Linked DNA regions of Homo sapiens: region 1 is linked to region 2. Evidence: fine-mapped expression QTL. Tissue or cell type: whole blood. Region 2 holds a variant in brackets; the other region holds the start of a gene. All regions are shown on one strand. Distances are between the middles of the regions.

What was found. PIP is the estimated chance that this variant, and not a neighbour inherited with it, causes the effect.
Region 1: it holds the start of SPX, and the variant in region 2 is fine-mapped to the expression of SPX in whole blood (INTERVAL, PIP above 0.99).

What each region holds. Positions count from the first base shown.
Region 1 is chr12:21,521,600-21,529,709 of GRCh38, forward strand. SPX (spexin hormone) reads left to right here and starts at 4,697. Exons shown (of 6, transcript NM_030572.4): 1 at 4,697-4,879; 2 at 5,287-5,367; 3 at 5,536-5,593; 4 at 6,128-6,190; 5 at 7,402-7,485. The coding sequence starts at 4,874.
Region 2 is chr12:21,566,789-21,574,788 of GRCh38, forward strand. It overlaps GYS2 (glycogen synthase 2), which reads right to left. Exons shown (of 16, transcript NM_021957.4): 4 at 7,356-7,538; 5 at 2,077-2,221. Among named protein-coding and RNA genes, the nearest start is that of GYS2, 34 kb to the right of the region's middle. The variant G/A (reference allele first, on the strand shown) is at 4,460.

The DNA.
Region 1 (8,110 bases), 45 kb before region 2:
GTCATCAAAAAGTAATTTAGGCATTTTGTACCATAATAGCCATATTGTCCAGATAACCTTATCCAAGATAGCAGCTGTTTTCCTTGTGAACACAATAATCACTGACCTTGAAAGAATGTCATTTAAACAGTGACAGGTGATCACTGGTTAAATAGGTTCTGGGCACTCTACAGTCGACTACAAGAATCCAGGTAACAGTGATGAATTCAAAACAGTCTTCATTGAATGTGCCTTTAAAAAAGGCTTAAAAGACCATTTGTTCAACATCTACTGCTTGCTCATACTGTCAGGAGAATAAAATTCAAGGGCTTTACCTATCTTGGATTTTTGTTGTTGTGTGTTTTGTTTTGTTTTATACCAAATATTGTAACTTAACCCATGTCTTGTTTTGGACCTGTAAAAACCCTAAAAGCTTTGTGATTTAACAAAAACATTCTATTGGGGTTCAGTGCCCTTTGGAAATCCTTTTAGAAGTAACACATTCTAGCATGTTACTCTTGATAAGACTGCAATATTGATAATATGTCAAAACCATTCCCTTCTTTTGTGCACATTAAACTGAAAATGGCAGCTTTGACGTAAGACATCTGCTTGTGAATTCATTAGCTAAACTATTATCAGCAAAGCACATTTATTTATTCTTAAAATTGTAAGTTCAAAGCACATTTTATTGGTGATTCATTTTCCTGCTCCTCTTCCCAAAACCTTTGTGTTTTGGGAACAAAAAGGCATTTGACTTATTTTTCAGGTAACCTAGTAATCAGGTTTCATGTGTGACTATTTAAAATATAAACACAGCATATTTCACTTCTTTTATCGCTCTTTTTTGAAGGAAATTGCTACAATCCTTAGAAATGAAAATCCTAAAATCTCACATTTGAAGCATTATTAAAATAGCATCCAGATAACCTTTTAGTCAGTTTTTATCTTTCTCCTCTCCTACGACAGTAGAAATAGAACATTACACTAATGCCTCTAGTTTTTTCCTGCTTTGCTGTTTTCCTTGAAGACAGTAAATAGTTCTCAAGTTTCTACTCACATACTACTTTCTATATTCCATTCTCATTTACTAACCAAACCTCAGTTTTCCTGTCTGCATATCAGTGTCAAGTCTAAATATCAGTGCCCAAACTCCAATCTCTTTTCCAAGTATTTGCAGGTAGATAGCATGAGCCTTTTAAACTTCAATCCCAAATGAAACTTACTGGTTCTCTCCTCAGAGTCCCTGCTATTTCTGTCTAGCCATTCTTCCAGCCACACAAACTCTGAGGTTTAGTTTTCGTCACTTCTTATACCCCTAAATCTTTGTTACTCAAAATGTCCAAGGGTCAATAGCATCTATCACCATCACCTGGGAGTCTATTAGAAATGCAGAATTTCAGGCCCCACTCCAGGTATACTGAATCAGAATCTGCATTTTAACAAATTCTCAGGTGATTCCCATGCACATTAATACCTGAAAACCACTGCCCTAACTGAGAAGGAACTGCTATGACCTAAATGTTTGTGTCCTACCAAAATTCATATGCTAAAATCCTAAACCTCAATATGATGGTAGGGCCTTTGGGACATGACTAGGTCATAAGGGTGGAGCCCTCATAAATGGGATTAATGTCCTTATAAAAGCATTCCAAAGAGTTTGTTTTCCCCTCCCACCCATGTAAGAACACAGCAGAGAAGACAACAGTCTGCAACCCAGAAAAGGGCCCTCACCAGAACCCAACCATGCTGACTGGACTTTGATCTTGGACTTCCCAGCTTTCAGAGTTGAGTAAGGAATTTCCATTGAGTAAGCTACCCAGTTTGTTGTATTTTGCTATAGCAGCTTGAATGGACTAAGAGAGGGACCATCTCTTTCTTTCATGGTAACTTAGTATGTGGTGGATACTCAGGTCCTTGTTCAATATCTGCCTATGTATATAGATCTTTTAACTGAATATTGATATACTTGGAATCCTATCCCTCTTGCCTTCTAAGAATTTCCTTTTGCTGTTATATTCCCTTTCTTCTACATCATGAATTTCTCCTTCCCTACTGATCATCCCCATCAATATACATGTCTTACAAATTGTTTCTTAGTTGTCACATCAACAGAAACCAATAAACATGGCTGATTTGGGCAAAACAAAGATTTTATTAAAAGGACACTGCAGCTGGCATCACCACTGCTACAGCACTGGATGCTGGAACTTGCCACTAGCACCGTAGCTAAGACTACTCCAGAAACTCAATCTTACTACAACCCCTGCTTCACCCGAGCACTTCTTCCATCCTGGCATGAGATTCCCCATCTAAGCATGCTCATCTGATTGGTGAAGCCCGTGTCATATGCCCACATTCTCCCTGATAGGGAGGCTAGAAAACTGACTATCTGGCATTTTCAGTTTGTACAATAGAAGAAACACTCTGCCTCCCAAAAAGATTCATAATTTCATAATTCATAATTCAGGGAATTTTAGGAATTTCCTAGAAATGAAAGGTTTCCCAAAAAGTATAACAAATCTTCTATCTTATCTTTTAAAAAAAAAAAAAAGATTTCACAGGCCAAGCATGCCTATAATCCCAGAGGTTTGGGAGGCTGACATGGGAGGACCAGTTGAGGACAGGAGTTTCAGCCCAGCCTGAACAACATAGTGAGACCCTGTCTTTAAAATAACAATAACAATAATAATAACAGTAAAAAAAATTCTCATTTTTTCCTTTCCCTTCTTTTGTGACATCTGTAAAAGAGATTGTTTATTCTTGGCTTTAATTTATCATATCATATTCACTATTCAACCAACTCCAATCTTGCTTCTATCCTCAAAACCATCATATTCCAAATCCAGTGGATGTTTCTTGGAGCTAATGTTGCTTGACCTCCCAATACTACTGGATCTTCACTTGGCTTCCATGATATCAGGGTCCCCTGGAATTTCTCCTTTCTTTCTGACTCTACCTCAACCTCCTTTTCTGGCTCTTCCTCTGCTCATTCTCTATGCGTTTGTTTTCATAGCTCTGTCCCTGCCACTCTTCTTTAGCCCTATTCACTCCCTAAGTGTTGTGTTTAATCTCATCCCTTTACTGGTTGTAAAATTCTTAGAATTCTTAAAATTCTTAAAGCTAATCATTTCTGCCCCCCACCAAAAAGAAAATCTGTAGGCTGGTGACCTCTTGGCTGACCTCTATCAAGTTTTGCATTTCTAACCTTCTATTTTGTACTTGTACTTGGATATTTTTAATATACATTTTAATTTTAATATGCCTATATGGCAAGTGTTAATTTCCCTCTCATAACTTGCTTCTTAAGAAGTTTCTCTAATTTCAGTAAATTACTTCATAATTTACCCACAGTTTTATCCATAAACCTAAGAATCATCCTTGATTTATTTTTCTCACACTTTCATATCCCTTTTATATACAAGTTCTATATTTTCTACCTCCACAACATGTATTCCAAATTCATTTACAGCTCTTCTTTCCCTGTGTGTACCATCCCAGTGTAAGCCATCATCATCTATTGCTTATAATCGTATTTCCACATCAACTGGCCCATTTCTTCTTCTCCAATCTCATTTCAAAGCACCTCCCCCGTTCACCCACACAACGCTGCCTCCATTGGCCTCTTTCCTAGTCCCCAAGCAAGTCATGCTCTTTGCTGTCCACAGATTTTGCTTTTCTTTCTTCTATTGAGAATGCCTGGAATACTAATTCCTGCCCAGCTTCTCCCATTACTTCACCTTATCCTTCAAGACTACCCTCTGTTTTTAACCTTCCCTAAAGTAGCCCACCACTTATCCTATCACATCACCTTGCTTACTTTTACTTAACAATTTAAAACATTCTGTAGTTACAGTAGTCCCTGCTTATCCACGGTTTCACTTTCCATGGTTTCAGTTACCCATGGTCAACTACAGTCTGAAAATATTAAATGGGAAATTCCAGAATTAATAAGTTTAAATTGTGAGCTTTAAATCTGAGTAGGGTGTTGAAATCTCTCACTGTCCAGCTCCAGCCCACCCAAGACATGAACCATCTTTTTGTCCAGCATGTCCATATGTAAACACCACTCTCCCATTAATCAGTTAGTAACCATCTTGGTGAACAGATAAAAAAAAATAGTATAATAAGGCATATACGTATCAGTGGTTTCAGGCATCCACTGTGGGTCTTGAAACATGCTCCTCCACCCCACACACACCTACGATTAAGGGGTAACTACTGTGTCTTATTTATCTATTCATCAGTTTACTGTGTACCTTAACTAGTAGGTAACTTAGATCAAAGCAGAGACCATGTCTTTTCAGTGCATGGCTGTGTCCCTTGAAATACAAGGATTGTGTGTCTCATAGGCACTCAATAAATATTTGCTAAACAACAGAATGAATTGATAATTAAGTGAATGACTGATGTCAAATTCCATTGAGATTCCCAAACCTTTTCATACATCTTTAGCCATCAGTGATAGACTGATGGCTAGTTACCCAAGAAAAGTTTTCTGATTTATTCTTTTACTTTTGATTCTGCCTTGGACTATTGATTGTTTTCATTAATAATAATAATAACATGTTACTTTGGGCAGCTAGTAGGAAAAGCAAGGCCAATGATGCTGACACATTCTGAAGGCCTCCTGGGTGATGCAATCAGTATTTAAACAAATAATTTCTGCCCATCAATCATTCCTCTACTTCCTGCAATGAAGCTCCCTGGAGGAGTCATCAGATTCTCAATCTTGCTTGAAGACTGACAAGATGTCCCTGTGGACTCCCAAACTCTACTCCAGATGGGGAGGTGCCCTTAACACCAAGATTTTAAAAGCTCCAATTTCAGAGCAAGAGTCGAAAACTCACAGATAAAGTTATAGTTATTTCAGGGTTCTGAAAAGACGCAGAACATGAAGGTAAGTAAAGGCTTTATTAACTTGAGACTTCTTAGCTATTTTTTAAAACGTTTTATAGCATTTTACCTATTTCATGTTTAATAAGGATTTTAGAGTTTAAAGGATATTTGAACGATACGCCTTTAGAATAACAGAATCATTTGATTTTACTAAGAAAAAAATTCACGTATTTACTTATTCTTCATTTGGGTGAAGTAATACAAATAATATGTTTCTAAATACGTTTTTTCAAGTGGACTCTTTGTGAATTAACTAGAAGGTAGAAGGGAAACACCTCCAGAAAACTGAGTATTAAAACAGAATATTGCGAGAAGTAAGGGGGTTTATAATTGTCCAGGCGTCAAGGAAGGAAGCAGAAGATCCTATTGGCACAGAAATGACCCTTTCTGGTTGATCGCTTCATATAGGGACTCAGAAGTCTGGCAGCAACAACCTTGGCTCTTTTCCTGGTGTTTGTTTTCCTGGGAAACTCCAGCTGCGCTCCGCAGGTAATCAAATGCAAAATAAAAAATTTTAAAACAATGCGCACTGTGTGTCCACTCTGCTCTTTCTTTCTTCCTTCTTGTTTTATTCTCTTCTTTTTCCTTTATTTTGCTGTAATAGAGGACTGAGCTGCAATGTTTTATTAACTGCTCTTCCCTTCCCCCGGGCTATAGAGACTGTTGGAGAGAAGGAACTGGACTCCTCAAGCTATGCTCTACCTGAAAGGGGCACGTAAGTTCCAAATATTTCGCTCTTCCTACAATAATGGAAGACCCCTAGGAGTCAGGAACAGATAGATGGAGAGTTATGGAGAGAGAATAATGTCGAGTTTATTCCCTTAAATCATCGAGGCCATCAAAGAGACCGGTAGGTGAGGGAGGGGTGGGAGAGGGGAAGAGTCCCTGATTATTGGAAATCCTCCATCCTTATTAGAAATTCTCCATCCAAAACTGGAGGGTTGCTTCTCTTGGTCCAAATGGGGACTCGGGTTGCCTGGGAAATATCTCAGTAACCCGACCTCCGCTCCAAAGCGCCCTTGCGGCGTCCGGTCAGGCGCGGGGCTTTCCTCCAGAGCTCCAGGGCCCCTGGCTCAGCCCGGGGTTGCGCTGGGAGCGCTGGAAACTCGGCAGCCCCGCGCGACCCTATCCTGGAGCAACCTGCCCCCTCCCCACGCCCGGGGACTGCGCTGTGCCGGGAGGAGCTGAGGTTTAAGCCCGGGTTGTCCCGGGCCAGGCTGTCGCTGAGCCCCAGGTCTCGTTTTTGCAGAGGGTCGCCGCTTCATCTCCGACCAGAGCCGGAGAAAGGACCTCTCCGACCGGCCACTGCCGGGTGAGTGACCAAGGGTGCAAGGGCGCTAGTCCTGCGCTTTTGGAATAGGATGGGGCGGGCAGGGCTTGCTCCGCGCTGGTGCCGAAAGAAAGCGTCTCCTCACCGGAAAGACGCGGCTCTGAGGCGCCCTCAGATACAGTCCGCCCGAGGGCAGCCCGGGTTGGCAGCAGCAGCAGCTGGATGCCGAGCGCCGGAGCTGGGAGCTCGCGCGTCCAGCCCCGCGCCAATGGTGGCAAGGGCGGCCCAGGCTGGCGCTGCGGCTCCCCAAGCCTTATTGGCTTGCGGCTGTTCAGCCAGCCCTCTGGCTGCCAGGGTGTGCAGAGGTCCCCAGGGAGTTAGGACCTGAGGTGCAGCTCAGAGGGGTAAGGCGAGATAGGAAGAACTATGCAAATGCTTCTAGAAATGTATCTGCGCGTTTGTGCAGGAACTTTACTCAGCCTCCTCTTAAACGCTGTTATTATTAAAATAAGAACTTACCTAGGAACTTCAAATGTATGCTTTTGTTTGACTAGAAAGAACTATCAAAGGTTCAAAATCAAAAGAGTAACATGCGGGCAGTTAAGGATGGGACCGGGGACTGTTCTTTTTCATGATAAACCTTTCCATCGTATTGTATTAACAAATAACAATACAATTTGATGAAATTGTAAAGATTGAAATGCTAAAATTAAAAAGTATACTTACTTGGAAAAATACCAAACACTGTTGAACACATAGTAGGTGCTTAAATTTTTGTTTAGGCTCTTCAAACATGCTGTGTAATTGAGCTTATTTATTTTATGAGGTTAAGATTTGTTTCTCAACTTCAGTTGCCCCAAATTAGAAATCATGTTTTGTGCTGAATCAGAACAATTTGTCTTTTTTCAACTTAGATTTGAAATAACTTTGAGTTCTTAGCAGATACTCCTTCAGTCAAATAATTACCTTATATTTGGCCGCAAAGGTTAAATTATTATCTAAAATTCTCTTTGGCATATAGTTTAACATTCTCTTCCATACCCTGTTTGTAAACTTGACATAACCAATTGTAAGTCATTTCCAAGGCAATTGTGACATGTTAAAAAATTAGTCTTCTGTGTAAGTAGTCCTTTGTTGAGGGGTCAAAATCTATTTCATAGAGGTTTTTCTAGTATTGCTGCATGTTAGAATAGGACTTATCTACATCAATATATAAATGCTAAGAGAATCTGTATACATTTTTGTTTCTGCAGAAAGACGAAGCCCAAATCCCCAACTACTAACTATTCCGGAGGCAGCAACCATCTTACTGGCGTCCCTTCAGAAATCACCAGAAGGTACTAGCATAGTGGCCTCTTTCACCTGCATAACAGAACAGCTTTGCTTACTTTCGGGATTCTGTGTTGAGTGCAACACCCCTCCCCCAGAATTTCTTGGCCTTAGGCCCAGAAATTCTAATTCTGTACTGCTTGAGTGAGGCCCAAGAATCTCTGTCCTTAAGAAGTTCTTCCACATTATTCTGATGATTGGTCAGGTTTGAAAACAGGAACTTCAGAGCCCGTTAATAAAGGTTGAAATCATGAGAATGGAGATACCTTCTAGGGCTTAGATATAGTGGGAAAAGGGAAGACAATAAAACACCCAAAAATCAAGGGAAATGGGGGGAAATAGTACCAGTGAAGGGACATTAAAAGGAGCAAGCAGAAAGGTAAGAGGAAAATCAGAATAAGAGAGTATCCCAGAATTCATTCAGTAGCTGATGCTACTGATCCCGCTCCTCTTGAAACTTTCCAGGGATGGAAACTATCAGAATGGTTACTATAGCAGAATGGTTAGTAAGAATACAGAACTCAGGGGACATTAAACAGTGTGTCACAGGACTTCCCCCCACCTCCTGCCCAGTGACACAGCTTGCTGCTGCTATTCCATATCTGAAACTTTGTTTACAGAATGTGATACAAG
Region 2 (8,000 bases):
TACTCAACATAAAATCATTTTTGGTACTGAATACAGGCAGTTTGGCAAAAAGCTCATGCTTTGACCACTACTCTGTAGCTATATTCTTAAGAAAACAAAAATTTAAGAAAATAGTATATAGAGAAAGCAGGACCTAGAATAGAATCTTGGAGAATGTCCACTTTGAAAAGTAAAAGAAAGTAGAAAAATGATTAGAGGCACCAGAAAAGATTATACTGGAAAGAAAGTAGAATGTGCAGTGTCATGAAAAATAATGGAAACAGATGTTCACCGCCTTTAAATGCTAGAGAATATAAAGAAAAATAAAAAACATTAGATGACCCTGAATTCGATGATTTTTGGAAACACAATTTTAGGCCAGAGTTGGAGGTCGGAAGCCAGAGTCCCAGGGGCTAATGAGTAAGTGAACCTAGCAATTATGGTTTACTCTTATAAGATATTTGGCAGCAGGAGAAAGGAGGAGATGGTATGATATTTGGCAGGGTAGAAACCTCAAGAGAAATTTTCATTTTAGAATAGGCAAAAACAAAGAAAGTATTTTTGTGAGCTCAGAGAAAGATAACTGTAGACAGGAAAAAGGAAGATCCAAGAGAGAAATGAGCATATTGATGGAATAAACTCCCAAAAGAAGAATGAGAGTAAGAATCCAAGCGAATTCAAGAGAATCCTTGGAAAGAAAAAAGGCTACTATAGGTTCTTAATGCTGCCACTATTCAAATTAGTTGGGTTCTTGTTCTATCTTGTTTTTTTTTTTTTTTTTAACCTAGCACCTTGAAATACCTCTTCTACACATTCTGCTATCTGAAAGAAGGACAACTAGAGACAAGACCACAGAAATTAAGCAAGGAGGATATATTAATTAGGATGATTTCGTTGCAAGTAATATAAACCTACTAATGCTGGCTTAAGTATAATAACAAGGAATTTATTAATAGGATGCCGGAGTGTCTCATGGCAAATATTTAGCTGAGCCTTAGGAATGATTTTTAAAAGTGGTCAAAACTGGCTGGCCGCGGTAGCTCACACATGTAATCCCAGCACTTTGGGAGGCCAAGGCGGGTGGATCACGAGGTCAGGAGTTCAAGACCAGCCTGGCCAAGATAGTGAAACCCCGTCTCTACTAAAAATACAAAAATTAGCTGGGCGTGGTGGCAGGTGCCTGTAATCCCAGCTACTCGAGAGGCTGAGGCAGAGAATTGCTTGAACCCGGGAGGCAGAAGCTGCAGTGAGCTGAGATCACGCCACTGCACTCCAGCCTGGGCAATGGAGCAAGACTCCATCTCAAAAAAAAAAAAGAAAAAGGGGTCGAAATCACTGTGGAGAGCCTCTAGTTCTCTCTCTCAGTCTGTTTTTGCTTCTTATAACAATTCAGTGTAGTTTAATCTTCTTTGCATCCAGTGCAACAAAGTAGAAAAATGAACACTACCAATAGCTTTGAGTTATTGGTAGTGTTTCATTGTATGACAGTGCATTGAGAGACTCGTTTGAATGGGAGCATTCTGATTGGCCCAGCTTATGTCAGATGTCTTCCTTTGGGCCAATCAGCCGTGGCCGGGTGACAGGGCCATGTCTTATGAGCATGAGTTCTTCACATTGCAAGCTCTGGTTGGGTCTGTAGATAGTTCCTGGAAAAATTTCCAAGGAATCTGGGGATAAGTAATATAAAACGTTTCTACCAACACAGCACCAATGAGGCAATATTACAAGATGTAGGACTGGGATAGTCTCACACAAATTTCTGTTTTCTTGGCTTTCATTTTCTCAAAAGACAAGAGTCAACCGAACTTCCTTACACATACCGACTCATTATGACAACCCAGGTCATACCAAGGTTATTTCAAGCATAGCTCATTTATTCAACAAGCACAGATTGAACACTTAGCCATGTTCCAGATATAGCTTTGAGTTGGCTTCCCTGCAAACCTACTGAAATTGAGAATTAAAATACATAAAAAGAGCTGCGTGGTAACTGAATGCAATTTTTCCTCAAACTACTACTTCACGATGGAAAACAAAATCCTCATAGTGTAACATCATTCGGAACTGAAAGATAGGTGATCCAGGGATAATAATTACCAGGCTTTCTCTTCAGCATATGTTCAGCTTCTATTGCTGTTATTTCAGAAACCGTGGTGAACACGTGAGCGCAATGAACGGAAGCTCGCTCCATGCAGTACCGGTGGTAAATCTGCCTTTCCCCAGCCTCTTTGTCAATGTTAAACTGTTAGAAACAAAAATAAAACACACATTTGCTAACAATGGCCCTTCTACACAAGCTAAACAAAATCACACATTTCACCAAGTGGCTTACCTCAAGGCTGTGTAAAAATTTATGACCACAAAAAAGTAATAAAAACTTGAATTAAACCCATTACTACAATATACATAAGGAATTACACTTTAAAAGACATTGTTTACTCCATTTCTCCCTCTAAACTGCAGTTTAACTCCCTAAGTAAATGATGTTTCTACCTTACTGTAATCACATAGAATTCTTGAATTTTTGACATTTTAATTACACTTTTACTTATTCTACATCTTGGAATACTGAGCTAATGCCTTTCTCCAAAGTCTTTTATATATTTTCCCATAAACAATGAAACAAAGTTGACATTAAAGTTGACATCGAAAATAAGAATAATTATTATAATGCTTAATTCACTGAAAGGGAACCTGAAAAAGAGAAAGACAAACGCTTTTCCTTGGTTATAGAACTTCCCCTTTATAATTGCAAAGAGTGTATAGTTAGTCTAGTTAGATATTGTGCTAGATTATGCAATTATCTATGCTTCTGGGTAGCTTAACTTAAAAAAAGTCAAATTCCCAACAATCACTTAAATAACTGGCAACAGTGTGGGCTTTTGCCATTTCACTTAGTTACTGAATGTAGTGTCTCACGCAGCTCCATATGAAACTAGCAGTGTCTAAGAAAAAAAGAATATGTAAAGTTTCTGACATTATGTAAGTAGGGTGCTTTTCATAGTGAAGATTTTTAGTAGCTCTTCAGCACTAGTGTCAGGCACTCCACTACGCACAATAACATATTTAATTCTTATAAACTACTGAGACACATATTTTGCCTTCATTTTATGGAGAAGGAAATTGAACCTTTTAGAGGTCAAGAAACTTGTCGAAGGTCACATTGCTATTAAGAATCTTGGTAGAACCCTAATTTGATCCTTAATCAGCCTGACTGATTAATGAATACAGTCTTGTATTCATCTGTTTTTATATCATTGAGACTTCAACTCTATCAAGAAGTTAGTCCCAATAATTATGGCATCATATAGAGAAAAATACTAAAAAGAGACCCATTAGAGGAATCTCATGATTAGAACAAGAAAACTCCTAGAGCATTCTTTCATGACTGTAATATTTGGAATCATCTCTCTGAAAATGTTTGAATCAGGTTGTATATGACATGCTTGGATCAGCAGAAGTTTTCTTAAAAGCTCTATGTGGCCAGCCTAATTAATGAAACCAAATCTCTCATTTAATCAACTTTTTTGAGCAATTTATGTGTATCTATTAACTTTAAGAAACTTATAAATTAATGGAAAATGGATTAAAAACAGGTAGAAATGAAATGAGTATGTGTCTGAATAAGTTATAGGATCAAAGCAGCACTGATTCACTCTGGCTGAAGGTAGGCAAAATTATCTCATACTACGCAGTAAGCGTAGTCAGTATCAACTCTACAAATGTAAGACTTTCAAGTGCAAAGACGAAGACTTATTCATCTTTCTATCTCCAAATTGGTTGGATGAATAAAATGGCATTTGGACCAGGATATGAAAGTTTAATTCTGGGAAAGTTATTTTTAGCTGAAATGCTAGCTGCCCTAAAGAACAAGTATAGAAAATGCTATGGCATGTGCAGAAAATAGCAGGACATCTGATGTGACTGTAGCACTGGATGTAGAATGTAAGAGACAGAGGCTGGTCGGATACAATAGGGCCAGATCACTGAAATCCCTGAAGATGAGCCTAGGAATTTTGCCTTTGTCCTGTAAACAAGAAAAGCCACTCTGAAAGTGTTTATTTAGAGGTGTGGTAAAGACAGAGCCAGTGTTTAAGAAAAATAACTCTGGAAAGAAGTAAAGAATGTTTTCTATCCCATTGAGTATTTTGTGAATTTCAAATGAGACAACAAATGTCAAATGTTTAGAAAAGTGCCTGGTATATGGAAAGTGCTCAATAAATTTAGCCATTGTTATTATTAATTATTATTATTGTTGTAGAGAATCACATGTCACAGATAAGACAGCATTTAACATTTGGACATTTAGAGATGGGAAGATAGATTTTCTAAATGAGCAGGCTGAGTATGCACAAATACAGAGGCAGGATAGCAAGAGCCTGGAGACCCCGTGAGAGGCCTTGGGGAAGTCGGGTGGGTGTGCATGCTTCTGCCTTTCCCTCCTCCCATGGGGCACACTTATCTTTTAGGTCTGTAGTAC[G/A]CGTGGCCACTCCTGTGGCTTTACAGAAACCTTATCCGTTTACACATGTTGTCCATTCTTCCACATATTTATGATTATATCTTAAAATCTCTGTACAATAATTCCAACACAGGACATATCTGGACCTGGTCTTTCTGACAATGGGTTTTTACTTTCTTGCATTTTAATATATCTCATAGTTTTTTATTGAATTCTGGATAATGTGTATAGAAAAACAAAAAATGGGTAAAGTACATATTAATCAATAAAACACAGTCCAGTGACACATGTGGATAACCCTGTAATTGAAGTTGACTAGCTCAAAGCTTGATCAGAAGAAAGAGTTTAAATCCACCAAATAATTGTCCATGGCTTCCTTCCCCATTTTCCAATCCCAAACGGCACTGTCCTCAGATTTCCATCTAGGAAATTCTGCTACAATTAAGAAAAAAAAGGCCGGGAGTGGTGGCTCACGCCTGTAATCCCAGCACTTTGGGAGGCTGAGGCGGGCGGATGACGAGCTCAGGAGATCGAGGCGATCCTGGCCAATATGGTGAAAACTCGTCTCTACTAAAAATACAAAAAATTAGCTGGCTGTGGTTGTGCGTGCCTGTAGTCCCACCTACTCAGGAGGCTGAGGCAGGGGAATCGCTTGAACCCGGGAGGTGGAGGTTGCAGTGAGCCGAGATCACGCTACGGCACTCTAGCCTGGCGACAGAGCAAGACTCCGCGTCAAAAACAAAAACAAACAAACAACATAAAATGGGAGGGGGGGTGGGGCGGGGGGCAAAACAAGAAAACTAAAGGCTTTAGAGGAAAAAAAAGAATTTATTATGTAGTCATTAGAGTCGAGAGGATAATTGATCAATGATTGGACTTTAAAAAATGAATTTGGAGACATATTCTCAGAAATTTCATACGCTGGCTGAAAATGGTTAAAATCTTATTTTAAATAATGAATTTTACTAAAAACTTAAACCAGCGTTAGAGTTTTTGTAATTGGCTACTAACAAAAATTGTTTTCAGTTAGCAGTAATTTGAGTAAAATCGTTCTAATCTTTCTGATTTTACAAAAGTTTAATTATCTTATTCTTGTTCTCATATTTGCCCTATTTTCATTTGTCTGAGTCAGAATTTACTGAAGCTGATCCTGGTTCCTGCATCAAAGATTAAACTATGACTTCTTCCTTATACTGAAATTTTAAAAACCTTTCATGTATATAATTTGGTATTCTTATGTGTCACCCAAATTCTAAATTTAGTGTGAGCATGGGGGCTTCTGCTGTGTAAAATGACTATGAATTTAACCCAAAAGCTAGTTCTTGACTGCTTGTTGTCTACTAGTCATTTTGCTAGATAGAACATTTTACTAGAAAGATGGGCAGGGATCTGACTAAACTTAAGTATCTCAACCAGTGAAGGGCTTTAAACTAGAGAGATGTGTGATTATATCTAAAGACAGTATGAAAAATACTGCCCTTTCATCAAAAGGGTAAAATTGTAATATATAACTATATACTATAATGCATTTCTTCCTTAAAACCAAAGAAAAATATCCTATGTATATTATTAGTAGCTTTTAAAATTAATTATTACTATACAAGATTCAAGAATTCTGAAGTGAAATATTCAATCTGCCACTCTAATATTTTCTCCTTCACTGAAGTCAAAGTGCACTCCTCTCCAGGAAGCATGGTTGTTGAGCTTACCAGCTTATCACAGATCACTGGTTTGCCCTTATTAGTCCACCATTACTATATACCGCTAAGAACCTCCCAGATCCCCAGGCTTTCTGAATTCCTTGGTGATTTTATTTTAAATGTACAGCTTGTGTTTCTAGTTTGACCTTTAAATTAGGCTGACCTTTTTATAGGGAAGGGCTCATCAGGACCACTCATTGCTTTACAGATGTTAAAGTTTTTCAGAAAGAACGTTCTTGCGCTCTAAGTGTCTTTGAGACAGTAGTATAACTTTTCAGTGGCATTATTTGAGTATTATTTGTGTATTACACACACATACACATTCTATTTTATAGAATCCTAGAACTCTTTAAGCTGGGAAATTTTTAAAAATCAACTTTCTAACTTCCTAATTTTCCTGATAGCAAAACTGAACCCTAGAGTACTAAATAGATTTGATTGTTAATATAGACACCAAATCTGCAAAACCTCTGAATTTATACTACTCAAACATTTTGTTAATATTATTAACATGATGATATAAAATATATACTTTCATTAATCTAAATTGACATGAAAAATAGAAGAAATAAATCAAAACTGAATGACTTTGGCAGGTCATAGACTCAGGTAACCTGCTAAGATGAGCAAAAATAACTTCTTGTTCACCAAGGACCCATATCCCTGTTTGCAATAACTTCTGTTTTACTTGATCCCACAAAAATGCCCCCTGTGCATTGCAAAGTTACAGGGAAAACTGAACCTATCAACCTATAATGTGGCTTTTAATCAATTGTTTACTTGGAGGATAGAAGAAATAGAGGAAGTAAGTCTCATAGTGCAAGTTTGTATGTCTCAAATCTCAATTATCTACCTGCCACTCAGAGCTGCATGTGGATCCAGGGTGTTCACAGCGCTTCCATAGCCTTAGGCTAGAACAAGGGCCCAACCTTGCACCTACACCATGTCTTTACTCCTACCATATCCCTCTGGAACTATTGTTCCAAAGTGGGACAGAAATCAGGCCTCTCACCTCTATACTCTAGTGTACTCTGAACAAAGTTGAACTATATGAGCTGTCTTTCAACCCAAGGGAAGCTTTGTCATGAATATTGATTAGCTAAAAGGGCATTTCTGCCATCTGGTTGGCAGATGAAATGTACAGATCAATACTTATCTTTCAGCTTCAGCAATCTGAAAGAAGGGTGAGTAAGAGGGAGGGAGGAAGGAATATTTACCTTATCAAGATGGTTGTAGAAATCAATATTTGCTGCACAGAGATACCTCCCAAGTAGTGTAGCGTGGGTTGTAAATATTGTGGCAATAGGAAGTTTCCTGGCTCGAGAAAGGATCAGTCCAATTCCAGCCTGCCATTCATGGAATTGGGCAACGACATATTTACCATCTGCATGATCTGTCACCTACATTAGGAAAAAAAAAGCATTCAGAAAAGTTGTTGATGAAGCTTGATTGTGCTCATGGTCCACATCATAAGTGGAGTTATGGTGTCTATAAATTATTTTGCAACTTAAAGGAGTCGAAACATAAAGCATGAATATTTAGCAAGGATAATACAGGATTCAGTGGCATGTTCATTAACCCCATATATTTTTAGGTCTTAATCCTCCCTTTCAGTGATGGAGCAGATTTTTTATATCCACAGAAGAATAAATACTAATATTAATAACAGGTAATGAATATTAATAAATAAATGGAATAAATGCAAAGTAGGCACTCAAAAAATATTTATTTAAGAATAAATAAATTCTTAAAGATATCACTGAACAGCTGAATCAATTGGGACCACTTACTTATAAGCTTATTTTTAAAAAACTACTTAAATTTTTTTTAATTGACTAGACTTGTGTTTATTTATAGTATAT